Regions from separate parts of the Homo sapiens genome. Here regions 1 and 3 are each linked to region 2. Evidence: fine-mapped expression QTL. A gene starts in region 2. Each other region holds a variant in brackets. All regions are shown on one strand. Distances are between the middles of the regions.

The links. PIP is the estimated chance that this variant, and not a neighbour inherited with it, causes the effect. A credible set is the group of variants that fine-mapping cannot tell apart.
Region 1: its variant is the best candidate, but not a certain one, in a credible set for the expression of PARP3 in lung (TOPMed, PIP 0.53).
Region 3: its variant is the best candidate, but not a certain one, in a credible set for the expression of PARP3 in whole blood (TOPMed, PIP 0.81).

The regions. Positions count from the first base shown.
Region 1 is chr3:51,400,842-51,407,477 of GRCh38, reverse strand. It overlaps DCAF1 (DDB1 and CUL4 associated factor 1), which reads left to right. Exons shown (of 25, transcript NM_001387579.1): 24 at 4,083-4,335. Among named protein-coding and RNA genes, the nearest start is that of RBM15B, 13 kb to the right of the region's middle. The variant C/T (reference allele first, on the strand shown) is at 3,605.
Region 2 is chr3:51,938,207-51,944,588 of GRCh38, reverse strand. It overlaps PARP3 (poly(ADP-ribose) polymerase family member 3), which reads right to left and starts at 2,226. Exons shown (of 11, transcript NM_001003931.4): 1 at 1,881-2,226; 2 at 1,051-1,235; 3 at 372-500; 4 at 11-199. The coding sequence starts at 1,233. RRP9 (ribosomal RNA processing 9, U3 small nucleolar RNA binding protein) reads left to right here and starts at 2,685. Exons shown (of 15, transcript NM_004704.5): 1 at 2,685-2,808; 2 at 3,098-3,180. The coding sequence starts at 2,722. RefSeq lists enhancers at 2,221-2,550, 2,675-3,323.
Region 3 is chr3:51,902,757-51,909,392 of GRCh38, reverse strand. IQCF1 (IQ motif containing F1) reads left to right here and starts at 6,040. Exons shown (of 4, transcript NM_152397.3): 1 at 6,040-6,123; 2 at 6,304-6,408. The coding sequence starts at 6,121. RefSeq lists an enhancer at 6,283-6,636. The variant G/A (reference allele first, on the strand shown) is at 3,400.

The sequences.
Region 1 (6,636 bases), 540 kb after region 2:
CTGTGTGTTCTCCACTGCCTAGAAGCGGATGTTAAGAGTCTTTACTGATTACACACACCTGGTCAGAGCTGAATGTGTTGATTCCTGAAAGGCCTCATTTTCTTAAAGAATTGAAATGTAACTTGAGTTAGATTCTGCCATTGAGGAAAGAAAAACAAACATTTATGACCCTAAAGTGAACCTATAGCCTTTAAGGACAGAAAAAGTATTTTTTAAAAAGTAGGCATTTATACATTTAGCAAAATATGACATGTTACATAAAGGTCAGGATCAGATTTGAATGACGGTTTTGTTGTTGTTTTTTTTTTTTTTTTTTTTTGAGATGGAGTCTCACTCTGTCTCGCCCAGGCTTCCGCCTCCTAGGTTCAAGCAATTCTTCTGTCTCAGCCTCCCAAGTAGCTGGGACTAAAGGCATGTGCCACCACACCCGACTAATTTTGTATTTTAGTAGAGACGAGGTTTCACCCTGTTGCCCAGGCTGGTCTCGAACTCCTGACCTCAGGTGATCCACCCGCCTTGGCCTCCCAAAGTGCTGGGATTACAGGTGTGAGCCACTGCGCCCAGCCAAAGTGTAGGTAAAAGGCATCTGAAGCCTATGTAGATGGAGAGCTTATTAGGTTTGGGAGAACTGAACCTCTTGGCATAGAAAGTGAGAAGCCAGTGTGAAGGTGGTGGTGAGGTGGGGATGAGAAAAGTGTCTGTGGTAACAGGGTCTCAGGGTTGGTTGAGATCCAGAGCAGGAGTGGGTAGCATGCTTCCTCCTCAGACCAGGGCTGAAGCCAGGTTTAGATGTAGAGGGGACCAGAGAGCAGCGGAGGGAGCTTATGCCAGTTGACCTATTTTCTGTAAAGGAAAGGGGTGAGTTGTTTATCTGCAGGGTTTGGGGGCTTTGGGTAACCATGAAATTGATGTAGGTGGAATTAAGGAGAGAAGAGTTTTAGAATTCTTTCTGTAGAGAAATTTATTAGTACCTTAATTTAAAATGGCCTGGCCCTGAATTCCTCTAAGCCCTAAAAGAAGTCTTAGAGAATTAAAAAAAAAAACAATATCCCTGGATCCAAAACATTTTCTAAATGTTGTCAGAGTTGAGTCAGGATTCTAGAAAAATTTGGTTTTTTTTTTTTTTTTTTTTTTTGAGACAGAGTCTTGCTCTGTTGTCCAGGTTGGAGTGCAGTGGCGCGATCTCGGCTCACTGCAAGCTCCGCCTCCTGGGTTCATGCCATTCTCCTGCCTCAGCCTCCAGAGTAGCTGGGACTACAGGTGCCCATCACCACACCCAGCAAATTTTTTGTATTTTTAATAGAGACGGGGTTTCACTGTGTTAGCCGGGATGGTCTTGATCTCCTTACCTCGTGATCTGCCCGCCTCAGCCTCCCAAAGTGTTGGGATTACAGGTGTGAGCCACCACGCCCGGCCTGTTTTTGTTTTTGTTTTTGTTTTCAAAGAAATGGGATCTCACTCTGTTGCCCAGGCTGGAGTGCAGTGGCACAATCGTAGTTCAATGTAGCCTTGAATTCCTGGGTTCAAGTGATCCTCCTGCCTCAGCTTCCTGAGTAGCTGGGACTACAGGTGTGTGCCGTTGTGCCCAGCTAAGCTTTGCTTTTTCATTAAATAATTATTTTTAGTTTTTACTTTTTGGACCACTCATTATTGGAAGCTTTATTCTTTAGATCTGAAGGAGAGGGGTTCATGCCACCAGTTACTTGACCAGCAGAGAATGCACCTAAAATTGCTTCCTAGAATCTCTTTTGGGTTCTGCCACAGCATTTTGGATGAGTCTTGTGAGCCTCTGCTTCATGATCCCAGTTTCAGATTTAAAATTTGGAAAGTGAGTTTATGGCTATGTCCATGTGTGACAAAATGCATGGTGAGAAATCAGCATTGGGCATTAAATACAAAGTAGAGACGACAAAGTGAGGTGCTCAACTTGAGATTCAGGTAGATCTCTTTCCTACTAATTTCCCCTCCTCTCTCTCATGGTCACATATGTGTTTGTGGCCTTCTGGGATGAATATATATACATCTGTTTCTTCTGCTATAAAATTAAGTAAAATTTGGGTTTGTCTGCTGCTGGAAGAGTTTGGAATGGTATCTAGTTCAAAGCTTAGACCCTGCTTGAAAATATTCCAGGATTGCTCTTGATATGGAAGCTTTTTGTTCAGTTCTTCTAGATCAGCTAAGCCTCAATGTTCTTCAAAATGAAAGAGAATTGTCTTCATGAATTTTCTGGCTAGCCCATGCCTATTTGAGCAGTTTAACCTTTCATGTACACACTCAACCGTGGACCTTTAGTTGTGCTATCTTAAATTTTAAATATAAGTGTTCTGTCCACGAAGCCTTAAGACACAGGGCCCTGGGTACTTTCTTCCTTACTTATTTTTAACTGTGGCACTTTGTTAGTGGATTAGCTAATTTTGGTCAAGTCTATGAAAATACGCCTGGAAAAAGAGGCAAAAGTTGTAATCTGGTAAGCACTTGGATGATATCCCCTGAATTTTGACCCCGCTCTCCTTTCCCAGTTATTTGTATGAGCTTATGTGCTTGTAGGGGCTGAGAGCCTGTCTGTGTTTCAGTTTATCATTGTTGACTCCAGACACTCATAGTTCCTTTGAGGCGGGTGAATGCTTAGTAGTTATTTATCCACTCACCTCTGGAGGGGATGTGTGGCCAAGGCTTTGGAATAGTCTCAGGCCTTCTATGTGTGTGTGTGTTGGCACATACACAAATGCTCCCACCGAATCTGGTACAGACCATACACGCACTTGCACAAGTATTAGGAGTACTAGGTATTTAAAAGGGGCTCAGTTTTTCCAACATAACTGGCAGAAATTTTGAAGAGTCTAAATTACTGAATTACACAGTTTATCAAAAAGTCACTAATGGTGGTTCCAAAATTACCAGAAGTCCACAAAGCGGAGCTACCCTGCTGAATGATCCTAGCTTATGTTACACACTGGTTTCTAGTGGCTGGGTAAGCACAAAATGCTTGTTTTTTAAGTGCTTGGCAGGCAATAACACCTTCAAAATGAAAAAAGATGTAACCACTGAGTATAAGTTTTAAAATAATAAGAACAAAAAAAATTTTTTTGTGCTTACGTTGGGCTTATTCCATCTTGAATTTCATTAGGTTGATGTATTAAATGAATTTTACATTTTATTATTGTAACAATTAGAATCCTTTGCTATTGGCAAGGCTGACAGTTGATGTTTGAGCAGAAAGATAAGTGTCTTGAGTGGCAGCTACGTTTACTTGGAAATGCCTCTTATCCCTGTCAAAGCAAAGAGGTATCTTTGTGTCCTCTCCCTTTTGAAGGGAAACAGTTGGGATTCTAATGCAAACCTGAAATCTGTGGCAGATGCCAGAATGTACCATTTACAAAGCCCAGAGTCCCTAGAACAAAGTATTTCATTGATGTTCTGGTAATTTTCTTGCCTTTGCAAGTTCTTGTAAGAATGGAAAGAAAGATAGTTTCTCCAGCATACTTTTTTTTCTTTTTGGCTTATGACAGGAAATATGGGTTTCTGTTAGTGTTCTATATTTTAAGTCTTTTGTTGCAATGTTGTTCTGATCAAATGTTTGTGATAGCATAGTTAGGAGCTTATC[C/T]ACATTCTTGGTTAGAAGATCAAGGGCAAGAGCTTGAAGGGCTGAGGAGATAATGAGCAGTTGTGTTCTTCCATTTTGTTAAAGCATTGCATTTTAGATTCCAGGTAAAAGGATTTTTTCTAGTGTCTCAGCTGATTTCACTTGCTTTGGTTGATGCAGGTGAGAAAGAAGAGTCCCCTTGGGCTCCTAGAATATTGAAGGCAGAGACTTCTGTGAAGCGAGTTGTCTGTTTCCTTGCATAAGGGCTATGTGACCATTAATCCTTGTCTGAGGGGTGCTTTGACCGTCTTGAGGGACATGTGTGCCTATCTCAGCCATCACTGACAAGTCTGGCTGGCTCATGAAGTCTGTGCTCGTCTAGATCACTACTACCCTCTACTGACAGTTTCCTACCCTGTCTCTTTGGTCGACCCGCCATGTGGCCCCCATGGGTCAGGCCTCTGTGTTTGTACTAATGAACATTACGCTTTCTTACCAGGAAGAGGAAGAACAGGAGGAAGAAGATGATGATGAAGATGATGATGACACCGATGATTTAGATGAGCTTGACACTGACCAGTTGCTGGAGGCGGAGTTGGAGGAGGACGACAATAATGAGAACGCAGGGGAAGATGGGGACAATGACTTCTCTCCCTCTGATGAGGAGCTAGCAAACCTTCTAGAGGAGGGAGAGGACGGGGAGGATGAAGACTCTGATGCAGATGAGGAGGTGGAACTGATCCTGGGGGACAGTAAGTATAGGGCAGAGTTCAGGCTGAGCCTTGGCACCCAGGGCAAGATCCCTTCTTTTGTGCCCATACAACTTAGAGGGCAAGCCATACCACGGTTCTGTGCCCCATAATTTGATTCACTACTCTGGTCTCTTGAGGCAAAGCACCTTTGCATCTCTGCCCTCCTCTCCTGTCAGACTGTGGAACCCAACCAAATGGCTGTCATTTCTTATCTTTCAAGTAGAGATTGGCAGACTTTTTCTGTAAGATCAGACAGTAAATATTTTATGCAGCCGGGCACGGTGGCTCACGCCTGTAATCCCAGCACTTTGGAGGCTGAGGCGGGTGGATCACCTGAGGTCAGGAGTTCGAGACCAGCCTGGGCAACATGATGAAATCCTGTCTCTACTAAAAATACAAAATTAGCTGGGCGTGGTGGCACATGCCTATAATCCCAGCTACTTGGGAGGCTGAGGCAGGAGAATCGCTTGAACCTGGGAGGCGGAGGTTGCAGTGAGCCGAGATCGTGCCACTGCACTCCAGGCTGGGATAATAGAGTGAGACTCCATCTCAAAAAAAAAAAAAAAAAAAAAAAAATGCTTTGTAGGGTATATGGCCTTTGTTGCAGCTCTTCAACTCTGCTGTTGTAGTGAGAAAGCAGTCATAGACAATCCGTAAATGAATGATTGTGGCTGTGTTCTAATAAAACTTTGTTTTGCAAAAATAGGTGGTGGGCTTGTAGTTTGTCAACTCCTGCTTCAGAGGATTAGCCTTAGAATGAAAGGCCAAAGTGTAGCTCTCCGCCGAGAGGCATGGCTAGAATCAGTCAGAAGCAGCCCCTCATGGGGTGCTGTTCTTTTTGGGGTGAATTATAAAGAAATGCAGGCCCTCTTGTGGAGGAGCCCTTTCCTGTCTCCCTTTGGCTAATCCCTCCTAACAGCCAAGGGGAAAATATTTTCCCTTTGGCTTCTGGTTTATTCACTTCCTTTTATTTACCTTTTTTTCTTAATCCAAATTTTGAGGAACAAACTCCAGTTCTTCTAGTTATTTCCCATTAGGTTTCTGAAGTCAAGTTGTCCCCTGACTATGGTAATGAATCCTGCAGAAATCAGCAAATAGTTCAAAGAGGCTGTTAGCTCTGCAGCTGTACATGAATCTTCTTACCAAGGCTGTATTTTGAGGAAGCTTGAGGGTGGGAGGGTAGGGGAGTGTCTTCTATATGTTCATCTGCTGTTCATCAACTTCTGTTTTTTCATACTTGGAGGCTGAGGTGATTCAGTGGAGTAGGCCGAAGCCTGGTCAGACAAAGTTTTAATGAACGTTTTTGTCACGTGTGAATAGTGAGACATGGGAAACAAGTTATACCTCCTTTCAATTACAAGTAGTTAGCAGGGCAGGTTCGCAGGGTCAGCAAACAGCAGGCCAGCTGATGGTGGTGCTCCCAAAATAAGAGAGCATCACTTTAATTTTTCCATTCTTAATTTGAATATAAAGCCACTCAGTTTGTATTTGGCCTGTACAATTACTGCCTCTTTTAGCTGTTGAGGAAATTCCTTCTTTCAAGCCAAAGGTAATCTGGAAAACTTTAACTCTATCAGTTGTGAGAATGTTGTTACTTTATGAGAATATTTACGATGTGAAAATAATGGATCACAACTTGAGGACGTCTCAGAGTGGACTTCAGAATTGAGGTGGAGATGCAGAGGTGGCATCTGGAGCACACTCCATGGCTCTTTCTGTGTTTCATAGAAGAGCCAGCTGCTGTCAGCAAGGAGAGCATTCTTAGCACCCATGGTTTTGCCTAACACTAATCCTTTAGAGCAGTAGCTCTGAACCTTACTGGGCTTATGAAGAGCCCTTTTAGGATAGGGTGAAAGCCATAGAAACTATAGAAAACCACACCCATGCGCCCCCACGTACCTTTACGTAGGCCCTGGAGTCTGCAGGGACTCCCTGATTGCAGATGCAGAGCCCTGGCCCTAGGAAGAGAAACAGCTTGATTCTGAGATCTTTTTTTTTTTTTTTTTTTTTTGAGATGGAGTCTCACTCTGTTGCCCAGGCTGGAGTGCAGTGGCGCAGTCTTGGCTCACTGCAAGCTCCGCCTCCCGGGTTCATGCCATTCTCTTGCCTCAGCCTCCTGAGTAGCTGGGACTACAGGCGCCCGCCACCACCCCCAGCTAATTTTTTGTATTTTTAGTAGAGACAGGGTTTCACCGTGTTAGCCAGGATGGTCTTGATCTCCTGACGTCGTGATCCGCCTGCTTTGGCCTCCCAAAGTGCTGGGATACAGGCATCAGCCACTGCACCCGGCCTGATTCTGAG
Region 2 (6,382 bases):
GCCATCTCACCTTCACCACAGCTTCCTGGGCCTCATCCTCTGCCTGTACTTCGATAAGTGTGTACTTGCCCGGGTGAGACACAAAGTGGTCCCGCTCTGCCCAGTTGTTCTTGGTCTTTTCCCGAAATTTCTTCTCAAAGTCCTTCTTTGCATCTTCTAGCCTTGTGAAGTGGTTGATCTTTGACTGGCCGACCTCTCCCTGCAACCGACAGCCTTCAGGGGTATGCCCACCATCAGCATTTGCTGGCCTGTGTGTCGGGCCAGGCCCTGTGCTGAGTGCCCTGGGACAGTTGGGAGGTGCCCCCCCAAGTCAGTAGCTGTGGCCTTTTGAGGACCCTGGGGAGTATGTGCAGAGCAGGCAGGGCACTCACCACACGGCCCCAGCGGTTCCAGCAGGTGAAGAAGCGGTTGCTGTCTTGGAGCAGCTGGATGATGTAGAACTTGTTGTTGTTGTTCTCGATGTTGGTCTGGTTCAGGGTGCAGTTGTAGTCCTCATACACCTGGGCCAGAGGGGAGGTGGGGGGCAGGCTGGCTGGGGTCAGATGGGGTGCCTGGCCGTACACCGAGAGGGCTCTGATGGGGACAGGAGTCTGACGGCAGTGGGAGTCAGAGGGACCCTGTCTTGGAAGCTTGGGGGGGTCACTGCTCTTCCCTAGGGGATGCGGTGTGAGAGGACATGGCTAAACCCTGACATGGAGGTATGGGGGGTGCTGGGGGGGACACAGCTGGGCCCTGGATGGGGGAATCTGAGAGGGACATGGCTCTGCCCTGAGGGGACATGGGCAAGCGCCCAGGAGACTGATGTAGTCACAGCCTTTCCCTAAGTGCGGTGGGAGGAGGCCTGCATGGGGTCTGAAGGGCAGATGTGACCCGCCTGGACCTGACGGGACACAGCCCTGATGTCTGGGGTCAGGAGAACATGGCCTTGCTCTGGCGCTTACCTGGGGGCCTTGGGCTCCAAAACCAGAACAGAGTCCTAAGGGGGTGGCCTGGGTGTGTTTGTGCTTATCAGTGGGCAGGCTCTGGGCCTGACTGGGGACTGCAGCTCACCTGGGTCCCGGGGTTGCTGCTGAGTGGACATGTTGGATCCACGCGGATTATGCGCTTCTCTGCGGGTATGGCCTTGAGGGCCTCAGCGGTGGAGCGGAAGGGGTCCTCCTCCCTTCCTGCCTGCCGGCCCTTCTTCTTCTCAGGGCCCTCAGTCTGTACCCAGGGCTTCGGCTTTGGAGCCATGGCTGTCCTGGGGCACAGAGAGGCCCTTAGGCCTCCATGGTCTCCTCATCCCCAACGACCCACTCTCAGTCCCCACCCCTGCCCTGGGCCAGCACAGCACCAACTTGCCCCACCCCGGGTTGGCCCTTCGGTGGCCTCCCACTGCATCCTGTGTCCACTCTGACGGCATTCCCAGCCCCAGACCACACCCAGCTCTTTGTCACTCAGAAACACCCCTTTCCCCAGTCCCAAGTGCAAGGTTAGGACTCTGTCCAGTCTGCCCACTCTGGTCAACAGGGTCTGCCTGGCTCCCTACCCTCTGCAGCTCACCTGTGTGTCCTGAGGGGTAGGGAAAGTGAAAGGAGGCTCTCTCTCTTCCACTTCGGGGCTCCTCCCCCTGTGTCAGCTAGTTCAGCCCTGGCATGGTTGCCGGGCCGAGTCACCGAGCTATGGGGGAGGGTGGGCAGAGGATCCTGGGGGCAGGATTCTTGGGGCCAGATTATCCTCCCGGAGCTTAGAACCCAGAGCTGTAGAAGCCCTTCCCAATGGACTCAAGAGTTCTGAGGAGCCAGAACTCCGGATCAGTGGCCTTGAACTGATAGAGGGCAAAGGCCAGTCCCACCAGGCCTTGCCCTGCCCTGCCGTGGGCAGGACCATAGGACACTCACCCAAGAAAAGCAGGGACATGGGAGAGGTCCTGGCTGCCACCCGGCCTGGTTGTGTGCGCCTCCCAGGGCAGTCCCAGGTCTAGCAACTCTCCATGAGCCTCAGGCGTGAATTAGGGAGAGAATTCCCAACAATCGCCAGAGGCCGGGGATGAGCTTGTGTGGGGGATTAGACATCGGCTATTTGGCCACCAGTGGGGTGAAGCAGAGGCTGGGGCAGGCCGAGTCAGGCGACCAGTCCCACGGACGGGTGGACACTCGATCTGGCATATCCAAGGCCGGGGCAGTCGCGTCCGTAGCGCTGCTCATGTGGCCGGGGCCTGCAGCACGCATCTGCCGGTCGCGCGGTGACCTTGGGCCCGGATACAGACGCAGCCTCCCTCTCCCCGGGGCTGCTTGGATCCCCGTTGGGTCTAGCGCCGGGCTGCCCATGGAGGGGAGGAGTCACGTTCCAGAACGCGAAAGGGCGCCGCGTCTCTGGCGCCCCCCAGCGGCCAAGGGGCGCAAACACAGAGAAGGCTCTTGCTCCGACTTCGAAGTGGGCCAGCAGCAGAGCGCAAGCGCCACAGCATCAGGCCGGAAGCGCCGTGGAGATGCGGGCTTCCTACTCGAGCCTGGTGCGGGAGCCTAGGAACTTCAGGAGGCGGGGCTACAAGCGTGCATCCTATGGGTGCCTGGGGGCGTGGCAGAGCCTGCAGAAGGACCCAATGGAGCAGTAGGAGGCGGGGCCCGGCGGGCGGTGGAAGCCTATCAATACGCGGGGTCTTGCCAGGCGGCTGGGGAGCTGGGAGGGTTCAGCTGCCACGTGAGTTCTGCGGCCGCTGCTACACGCCTGGTGGGCAGCATGTCGGCAACAGCGGCTGCTCGTAAGCGGGGAAAGCCGGCCTCTGGGGCCGGGGCTGGCGCGGGGGCCGGCAAGCGGCGGCGAAAGGTGAGCATGGCGCTTCTGAGGGCCGCGGTCAGCCCTGCTACTGGGACAACCGTCATCCCATCCAGGGGACCTGGGTCCCGGCCCTTCCCCAGCCCTTCGCCCTGGACCCCTGCTGGAGTCAGCTTCGTCCCTCTCTCCGCGGGCCAAATCCTAGAAAGCCGTTCGCTTAACCCGGGAACCACCGCCTTCCCCATTCCTGGGGTTCTGAGGGAACCGAGGGGGGGGGGCCCTTGGTCAATGCCAGGGTGGTCTGGACCCCTGACCAAAGAAAAGACCGTATAATTCCCAGGCCGACTCTGCGGGGGACAGGGGCAAATCCAAGGGTGGCGGCAAGATGAATGAGGAGATCTCCAGCGACTCTGAGAGCGAGAGGTGAGCTATTCTTTTCCACATAGTGGGAGGGAAAACTGAGTCCCATGGTGCACGGAAGACTGAGTGAGTCCGAACAGAACTGAGCCTAGAATCCAAGACTCTGTCCCTTGGCTCTGAGATCGTGGCTGTTTCCTTTAGTTTCTGGTCCTGCAAAGTCTTGTTTCTGCGAGGTCTCTGGGTGGGAAGGACCCTGGGCCCCAATCCGAGGCCATTGAGACCTCCTTAGGTTTTGGCAGGGACTGGACTGATTGAGAAATTGCAGGAAAACAGAACAAAGCTGTCAAGTATTTCTTGCATCCTTCTTCCCTTGCCAGTTTTCCTGCAATTTCACAATTACTGGGCTCCCCGTCTCTTAACATGCCAGGCACTGCCTTTGCTGTTGGAAGTGCAGAGATAGGCAGGCGGGTGAAGAGAGTGTGTTGTAGTGAGGTGTGTATTTTATAGTTGTGTGTTCTGGGAACAGAGGAGGGACATTTAAATAGGGTCTTGAGAGATGAAGAGGAGTCTCTCACGGAGAGGTAGGGAAGGCATTCAGTGATCAGAGGAAAGTCTGAGGTGTAAGTGTGCCAGAATGGGCAGTAGAAAAGATGAAAGGGGGCTGGGCCTGGTAACTCATGCCTCTAATCCCAGCACTTTGGGAGGCCAAGGCGGGAGGATTGCTTGATGTCAGGAGTTTGAGACCAGCCTGGGCAACATAGCGAGATCTTGTCTGTACAAAAAAAAAAAGTTAGCTGGGTATGGTGGTGTGCACCTGTAGTCCCAACTACTCAGGAGGCTAAGGTTTGGGGATCCCTTCCCAGGGAGTTGAAGCTGCAGTGAACTATGATCATGCACTGCTCTCCAGTCTGGGTGACAGCAAGATCCTGTCTCTAAAAAAAAACCACACACAAAAACAGGAGGACTGGTCATAAGTGCATGTAGATTGTAGAGGGCTTTGGATGCCTCCCTCATTTCTGCAGGTGATGGGTGTGGTTGCTTGCAGGTTTTCAAAGGGTCAGGCATGGTGTCAGGCCTGACCCTGTGGGTTGGAGGCTCTTGGACCAGAGAATCCTAGTGCCTTCCCTATGAGTTGACTTTAGAACTCGCTTCTAAAATTGAGTATGTGTTGCCTTAATTTGCTCATGGAAAGAATGTACTTTTTTTTTTTGTTTTTGAGACAGAGTCTCACTCTGTTGCCCAGGCTGGAGTGCAGTGGTGCGATCTCGGCTCACTGCAACCTCTGCTTCCCAGGTTCAAGTGATTCTCCTGCCTCAGCCACCTGAGTAGCTGGGATTATAGGCCTGCACCACCATGCCTGGCTAATTATGTATGTTTAGTAGAGATGGAGTTTCACCATGTTGGCCAGGCTGGTCTCGAACTCCTGACCTCAAGTGATCCGCCCATCTTAGCCTCCCAGAGTGCTGGGATTATAGGCGTGAGCCACCACACCCAGCCATTAATGTACTTTTCTTAATCCGAAGGTTATTGTGGGTGAGTGTGTGCCAGGCTAGTGTGGGCTAAGTGCTTTTAAATATTTTTAGAATGTTGTGTTGTGAAGTGTGTTAGATACAGAAAAGTGAATGAGATATATTTGCACTACAGAGAGTAATGGTAAAATGGTAAACCTCTGTACACTTACTTACCACTTAGGTTAAGAACTAGAACATTTGCAGAAACTTAGAAGCCGCAACTGTCATTCCTAACTTGAGTTAATCATTTCTTTGGTTTCTTTGTTCTTCTTTTAAAAAATTAACATTTTCCATTTAGGTATAATTTACATATAGTAACATGCCCTTTTTAAAGTTATAGTTCAGTGAGTTTTGACAAACACACACAGTTGTGTGACCACCTCTACCCTGAAGGTAAAGAGTTTCATCACCCTCCAGAACTCCTCCTGCTCCTTCGTAGTCAGCCCCTCTCCTTCCCCCCAAGTCTCTGCTAACCACTGCCCCTAGAGTTGTGCATTTTCTAGCATGCCCTGTAAATGGAATCATAGTGTGTACTTCCCTTGCATTTCTTTAGCGTTCTGTCTCATGCGTATGAATCCTTCAACAATAGATTAATTAGTTTGGCTAAATTGAGTAGAAGTCCGAAGTTAACACAGGTCCCTTGGCTGTGTAAGGGAAGGGCAGCACTAGCCCTGTTGGCTGAAGGCTTGCCAGGCACAGGGCACTAAATTATTTCTGGGGCATGGTCCAGCTTTGGCTTTCCTGAGAGTTTTCAAGGTCCCTTCTGGGGAAGTCAGGGGCAGGTTTACGAGTGAGTCTTGGGAAACACGGTTAGGGGAGTGGACAGAGACTAGATGTCTTCAGGCACATGATCAGAGGGAGTGGGCTGCCTTGGATTCTCTGTGTCTGAGTGCCCATGACCTACCCCCAGCTCCCAGGAGCAGGTCAAAGCAGCACCTGTCTTTGGGTGAAGTGAGTACTCTCAGCTGGTCCGGGGGCTGGGGCATGGAGGGGAAAGCCGTAACTTCACCAGTAAAGGCCAATCCCCAAACAGTGAAGGTTCGCTTGGAACCTTGTTCCCAGGGTAAAGGATGGTGCTGTGGTGATGACAGTCCTGGTGTGTCTGCCTGGTGGGTCCTTGGATCTGATCCAGACTGCCCCCGTCATGTCTGGGGATAGTGTCACCCTTTCTGCTCTCTTGTGTCGCATCTCTGGTTTCCGGTATCCCTTGCCTTTCTCTTTCCCAGTTTACCCTCTTGTTTGGGAGCACAGCTTCTATCCTTCCTAAAGAAAAAGAGGGAGAAAATTCCATGGCACCTTGCACACCTGGCAGTGTCGTCGTTGATTGTTTGACTGGGCATGGCATTTTAGGGGTCAGTGTATTCCTCCAGAGCTTTGTGTGTGAGGCTTCTTTGTCTTCTTGTTCTCAGTATTGCTGTTGAGATGCCTGCACATTTTGATTCCTGACTCTTTGTATGTGACCTGATTTCTTTTGGAAGCCTGGTTTCTCTTGGAAGCCTCCTCTTTCCCCCAGAGTTGAGAGGCTTTAGTGATCTCTTTGGGATTTGGGTCTGTTTCCACCCCTACGTGGGGCACTGAGTGGGGCCTTTTAGTTTGGGGAGTCACATCCTTCAGTTTTCTGCAGTGTAGTCACCGACCATGTGGGCTAGCAGGGAATAGGGGAGGTTGGATGGCAAGGTGAGCATCCAGAAGGCACGATCCTAGCGGTCAGAGGAACAAGGTGAGCCCCTCAGACCCAGCCCCTTCCTGCCCAC
Region 3 (6,636 bases), 35 kb after region 2:
ACTCTCTCTAGTGAACTATTCATTTTGGGTATTGTATTTTTCAGTTTTAGAATTTCAGAACTAGGCATGGTGGCACGTGCTTGTAGTCCCTACTACTCAGGAGTGTTTCTTGAGCTCAGGAGTTTGAGACTAAAGTGGATGATATAACAACACCCTGTCTCTTTAAGTAGAAAAAAAAATTGCATTTCTTGTATTCTGTTTTTTAGAGTTTCCATTTGTCTGCCAAAATTCTCCATCTTTTTATTCATTTTTTTCTACCTTTACCTGTAAATTATTTTCGATTATATGTCTATTTATATAATCTTTGTTGTTTCAAAGTCTTTGCTAATTCTAACATATGAGTCATCTGTGAGTCTGCTTCTATTGCTTTTTTTCCTTTTGATTACAGGTCACATTTTTCTGCTTCTTCATGTGTCTCATTTTTAAAATTGTATGCAAACACTAGATAAAAGCAGTAGAGACTAGGGTGGGCCATTTTTCAACTAATCAGGAGTTCAGTTAGGTTGGGGCTGTTTTGACACTTTAGTTGGTTTGCATCCCCCTCAGTTTCAAATGTCTTGAGGCTGGGATCAGGCTCCTTTCTCCAGCAAAAGTGTGGAATATTAGCACTGTGAGACTTGAGAGCTCTCTCTGCTGTCCAGGCCAGCCCCTGGCTCCCTGTGCTGCTGTGGGTCCAGCAGAAGTCCCATGGGAGGGAATGGTGGCAGCAGAGGACTCACTGTGTGTGTGTGTGTGTGTGTGTGTGTGTGTGTGTGTGTGTGTGTGTGTGTGTGTGGCTTTTCCAGATTCCAAATTGTCTTGCAGCTCGCATGCAACCATTGAAAGTTCAAGTTCAGCTGGTTTCTCCCCATCACAGCATTTCACTGCATATGGCGGGCTTACTCCTGCAGGTCCTTGTGTCCAGAGATTTGGTACATATCCACAGGCATGAAAGCAGCCACTAACCTCCGTGCAACTAGACAGGGACAGAGCCACTTTAGAATTCAGTTTTAGATGCTCCATACCTACTGCTATGTGATGTTTTAAGTTTGTCAGGTGTTTTCTTATTGTGCAGTTGTTGCGGGAGTATTTTGTGACCCTCTGCATCCTAACTGGAGGTGGAGCCCTCTGACATTCCCATGCAGTGGCGTTTCTTCCTCCTTTCTGGCTACTCTGGAGGGAAGCCCTTCCATGCCCAGACCAGCCTTTATACGTTTCATTTCCTCTCTTGATGTTGCCAGGGCTTTTTATTCTTCACAGGATGTGAGTTACCCCATATATTCTGATCAGTAATTAGATTTTTGATTTAAATTTTCTATCTTTTTTTTTTTAAAGACTGGGTCTCGCTCTGTCACCCAGGTTGGAGTGCAATGGTGCAATCATGGCTCACTGCAGCCTCGACCTCCCTGGGCTCAGGTGATTTTCCCACCTCTGTCTCCCAAGTAGGTGGGACTACAAATGCACACCACCATGCCTGGCTGATTTTTGTATTTTTTGTAGATACAGGGTTTCGTTATGTTGCCCAGGCTGGTCTCAAACTCCTGGGTGCAAGTGATCCACCTGCCTTGGCCTCCCAAAGTGCTGGGATTACAGGTGTGAGCCACCACACCTGGACTTTTTTGTCTTCTTCTCTCTCAAAAAACCGATGCCCACTACTTAGGTCGTGAGGAGTTTGGGGTTTATTCTTCCAGATAATGAAGCACAAGGCTTTCATGAGTATGTGTGTGTGTGTTGGTGGGGAGGTGTAGGGAGTGTTGGGAGTTGGGGGAAGTAAAAAACTGACTAGTGTTACAACAAAGGCCTGTATCCTATTATCCTCAAATGAACACATATCACACCTTCTCTGTCACACCCTCTATTAGTCCATTTTCAGGCTGCTGATAAAGACATACCCAAGACTGGGCAATTTACAAAAGAAAGAGGTTTAATTGGACTTACAGTTCCACATGGCTGGGGAAGCCTCACAATCATGGCAGAAGGCAAGGAGGAGCAAGTCGTGTCTTACATGGATGGCAGCAGGCAAAGAGAGCTACTGTAGGCAAACCCCCATTTTTTTTTTTTGAGACGAAGTTTCACTCTTGTTGCCCAAGCTGGAGTGCAATGGCATCATCTTGGCACACTGTAACCTCTGTCTCCCAGGTTCAAGCGATTCTCCTGTCTCAGCCTCCTGAGTAGTGGGATTACAGGCACAAGCCACCATGCCCAGCTAATTTTTTGTATTTTTAGTAGAAACAGGGTTTCACCACGTTAGCCAGGCTGGTCTCGAACTCCTGACCTCAGGTGATCTGCCCGCCTCGGCCTCCCAAAGTGCTGGGATTACAGGTGTAAGCCACCACGCCCAGCCCAAACTCCCATTTTTTAAAACCATCAGATCTCATGAGACTCATTCACTATCACAAGAAAAGCGTAGGAAAGACCTGCCCCCATAATTCAATCACCTCCCACCAGGTTCCTCCCACAACATGTGGGAATTGTGGGAGTTATAATTCAAGATGAGATTTGGGTGGGGACACAGAGCCAAACCATATCATTCCACCCCTGGCCCCTCCCAAATCTCATGTTCTCACATTTCAAAACAAATCATGCCTTCCCAGCAGTCCCCCAAAGTCTCAACTCATTTCAGCATTAACTCAAAAGTCCACAGTCCAAAGTCTCATCCGAGACAAGGCAAGTCTCTTCTGCCTATGAGCCTGTAAAATCAAAAGCAAGTTAGTTACTTCCTAGATATAATGAGGGTACAGGCATTGGGTAAATACAGCCATTCTAAATGGGAGAAATTGGCCAAAACAAAGAGGCTACAGGCCCCATGCAAGTCCGAAATCTAGTGGGGCAGTCAAATCTTAAAGCTTCAAAATGATCTACTTTGACTCCATGTCTGATATCCAGGTCATGCTGATGCAAGAGGTAGGTTCCCATGGTTTTGGGCAGCTCCACCCATGTGGCTTTGCAGGGTACAGGCTCCCTCCCAGCTGCTTTCATGGGCTGGCGATCAGTGTCTGTGGCTTTTCCAGGTGAACAGTGCAAGCTGGATCTACCATTCCGGGGTCTGGAGGACAGTAGACCTCTTCTCACAGCTCCACTAGGCGGTTCCCCAATAGGGACTCTGTGTGGGACCTCTGTCCTTACATTTCCCTTCCACACTGCCCTAGCAGAGGTTCTCCATGAGAGCCCAGCCTCTGCAGCAAACTTCTGCCTGGGCATCCAGGCATTTCCATACATCCTCCGAAATTTAGGCGGAAGTTCCCAAACTCCAATTCTTGACTTCTGTGTACTCACAGGCTCAACACCATGTGGAAGCTGCCAAGGCTTGGGGCTTGCACCCTCTGAAGCCACAGCCTGAGTTGTACATTGGCCCCTTTCAGCCATGGCTGGAGTGGCTGGGACACAGGCCACCAAGTCCCTAGGCTGCACACAGCACAG[G/A]GACTCTGGGCCCAACCCATGAAACCATTTTCTCCTGGGCCTCTGGGCTTGCGATGGGGGGCTGCTGTGAAGGCCTCTGACATGTCCTGGAGACATATTCCCCATTGTCTTGGGGATTAACATTTGGCTCCTCATTACTTATGCAAATTTCTGAAGTCGGCTTGAATTTCTCCTTAGAAAATGGGGTTTTCTTTTCTATCACATTGTCAGGCTGAAAACTTTTTGAACTTTTATGCTCTGCTTCCCTTATAAAACTGAATGCTCTTAACAGCACCCAAGTCACATCTTGAATGCTTTGCTGCTTAGAAATTTATTTTGCCAGATACCCTAAGTCACCTCTCTCGAGTTCAAAGTTCCACAAATCTCTACAGAAGGGGCAAAATGTTGCCAGTCTCTTTTTGGCGACATAAGAGTCACCTTTGGTCCAGTTCCCAAGAAGCTCCTCATCTCCATCTGAGATCACCTCAGCCAGGACCTTATTGTCCATATCACTATCAGGCTTTTTGGTCAAGGCCATTCAACAAATCTCTAGGAAGTTCCAAACTTTCCCACATTTTCCTGTCTTCTTCTGAGTCCTCCAAACTGTTCCAAGCTCTGCCTGTTACCCAGTTCCAAAGTTGCTTCCACATTTTTGGGTATCTTTTCAGCAACACCCCACTCTACTGGTACCAATTTACTGTATTAGTCCATTTTCAGCTGCTGAAAAGACATACTGAAGACTGGGCAATTTACAAAAGAAAGAGGTTTAATTGGACTTACAGTTCCACATGGCTGAGGAGGCCTCACAATCATGGTGGAAGGCAAGGAGGAGCAAATCACGTCTTACATGGATGGCAGCAGGCAAAGAGAGCTTGTGCAGGCAAACTGCCTTTTTTTTTTTTTTTGAGATGGAGTCTTGCTCTGTCGCCCAGGCTGGAGTGCAGTGGCATGATCTCAGCTCACTGCAAGCTCTGCCTCCCAGGTTCATGCCATTCTGCTGCCTCAGCCTCCCCAGTAACTGGGACTACAGGTGTCAACCACCACACTTGGCTAATTTTTTGTATTTTTAGTAGAGACGGGGTTTCACCGTGTTAGCCAGGATGGTCTTGATCTCCTGACCTCATGATCCTCCCGCCTCAGCCTCCCAAAGTTCTAGGATTACAGGCATGAGCCACTGCACCCAGCCCAAACTCCCATTTTTAAAACCATCAAATCTCTTGAGATTCATTCACTATCATGAGAACAGCACAGGAAAGACCTGCCCCCATAATTCAGTCACCTCCCACCAGGTTCCTTCCACAACACATGGGAATTGCGGGAGTTAAAATTCAAGATGAGATTTGGGTGGGGACACAGAGCCAAACTATATCACACCCACAACTTCCCACATCTTTCAATGTATTCCCATATTCTCCACCCCCTCATCCCATTAACTTCACATCCCAGCCTCAAATGGCCTCCTCCTCTTCCCTACATTCCCCCTACAGATCCACATTGGCCTCTCCCATACTCACCCTATACATTTCAAGTGCACTTCTCAGTGACCCCAGGGGCTGTGCCTCTCATGGCCTTACCCTGTCCAGCTGGGTCTTCAGAGGCCGAGATCAGGCAGAAAGGGGCCATGCTTGTGCAGTGGCCACCTTCATCCATCTGATTGTGGCCTTGAGACCCCAGGGACAGAGGAAGACAGGAGAGCACTTGGACCCATTTGAGCCTCAGATGGAGTCCAGGCTGGTCCTCAGGCCCTCATGGGGTTCCTTGGGGACTGTGTTAGGCATGAGTCAGCAATTTAACTCTCCTCTCCAAAGGTAATCATTGGTAATAGTTTGGTATATATACCTTTTTTCTTCTTTATATTCATTTACAACATATAATGTGTATCATGTAATAACTTCTGGCATAAATTATTCAATTTTATGTGTATAATTATGTTCCTAGTTTTGTTTGCATAGTGGGATCAAAAGGAACTTTAGTTTTTTACTTATAAATACATCTTTATATATTTCCTCATTAGTAATATAGATCAAATTCTTATTTTTAATAGTTATGTAGTATTTTATAGTATGAATGAACTATGCATCATTAAATTAATCCCCTATTGATTATTTAAGTTGGCTATATAAGTTTTTTCTTTTCTTTTTTTTTTTTTTTTGAGATGGAGTCTTGCTCTCTTGCCCAGCCTGGAGTGCAGTGGCATGATCCTGGCTCACTGCAAACTCCACCTCCTGGGTGCAAGCGATTCTCCTGTCTCAGCCTCCTGAGTAGCTGGGATTACAGGTGACAGCCACCACACCCAGCTAATTTTTGTAATTTTAGTAGGGACAAGGTTTTGCCATGTTGGCCAGGCTGGTCTCGAACTCCTGACCTCAGTTGATCTGCCTGCCTCGGCCTCCCAAAGTGCTGGGATTACAGGCCTGAGCCACTGCGCCTGGCCAAGTTTTTTCAATTAAATGTTATTAGAAATGACTGGCTTTTTATAAACCTTACAGCAATGGGCCAGTATTTCTGGCATCTTGCCTTTGAAGTCAGGGCTTTGGCCATTTCTGGCAGAAAAGAATGGGCAGCGCTTTTGTCTTTCCCTTGGAGGGGGCTCACTTGTTAGGAGCCATCTGGTGCCTGAGTCACAGGTGCCCTTATGACATCACAGGCCTTTCTTCCTCCACCCTTCCTGCCTATGCTATGGCTGGATGAACACAGATGTGAGGGGATTTGAACCATCTACAATCAATCCATATGTGACCAATGGTAAGAGAAAGCCAGACACACCAGGCTTGTTAGGGATGTCCCCATAGATCTCTCAGGGTGAAGGGACCCCCTGACACTGAAGACTCTAAGAAGCCCTGGAAGCTGGGGATGTGTGCCATATTGAATGGAGAGGGAGGGACCGCAGCCTCACTCTTGCCTTTCCCCTAATGCTGATTGCAGGAGGAGAAGCAGCCCCAAAAGACGAAGGAACCCTCAAAAGAAGATGAGCCTCAGCAGAAGGAGATGCCAACCCATTTGTCCTTAGGAGCAGAGTCAAAGGCAGAGGTAGGAGGAGCCCTGACTTGGATGTCATTGATCCCATGTCCTAGTGCTAGTAGCTAGTGTCTTTTGCATGGTGCTGTTATAAGTGAAGTTTCTGTGCCGCAAAAGAAATAGCACTCAAATATAAAATTTTCTTTTTAATTCTCAGCAAGGCAAGGTACTTCTATAGAAGGGTGCGCCCTTACAGATGGAGCAATGGTGAGTGCACACTTGGACAAGGGAGGGGAAGGG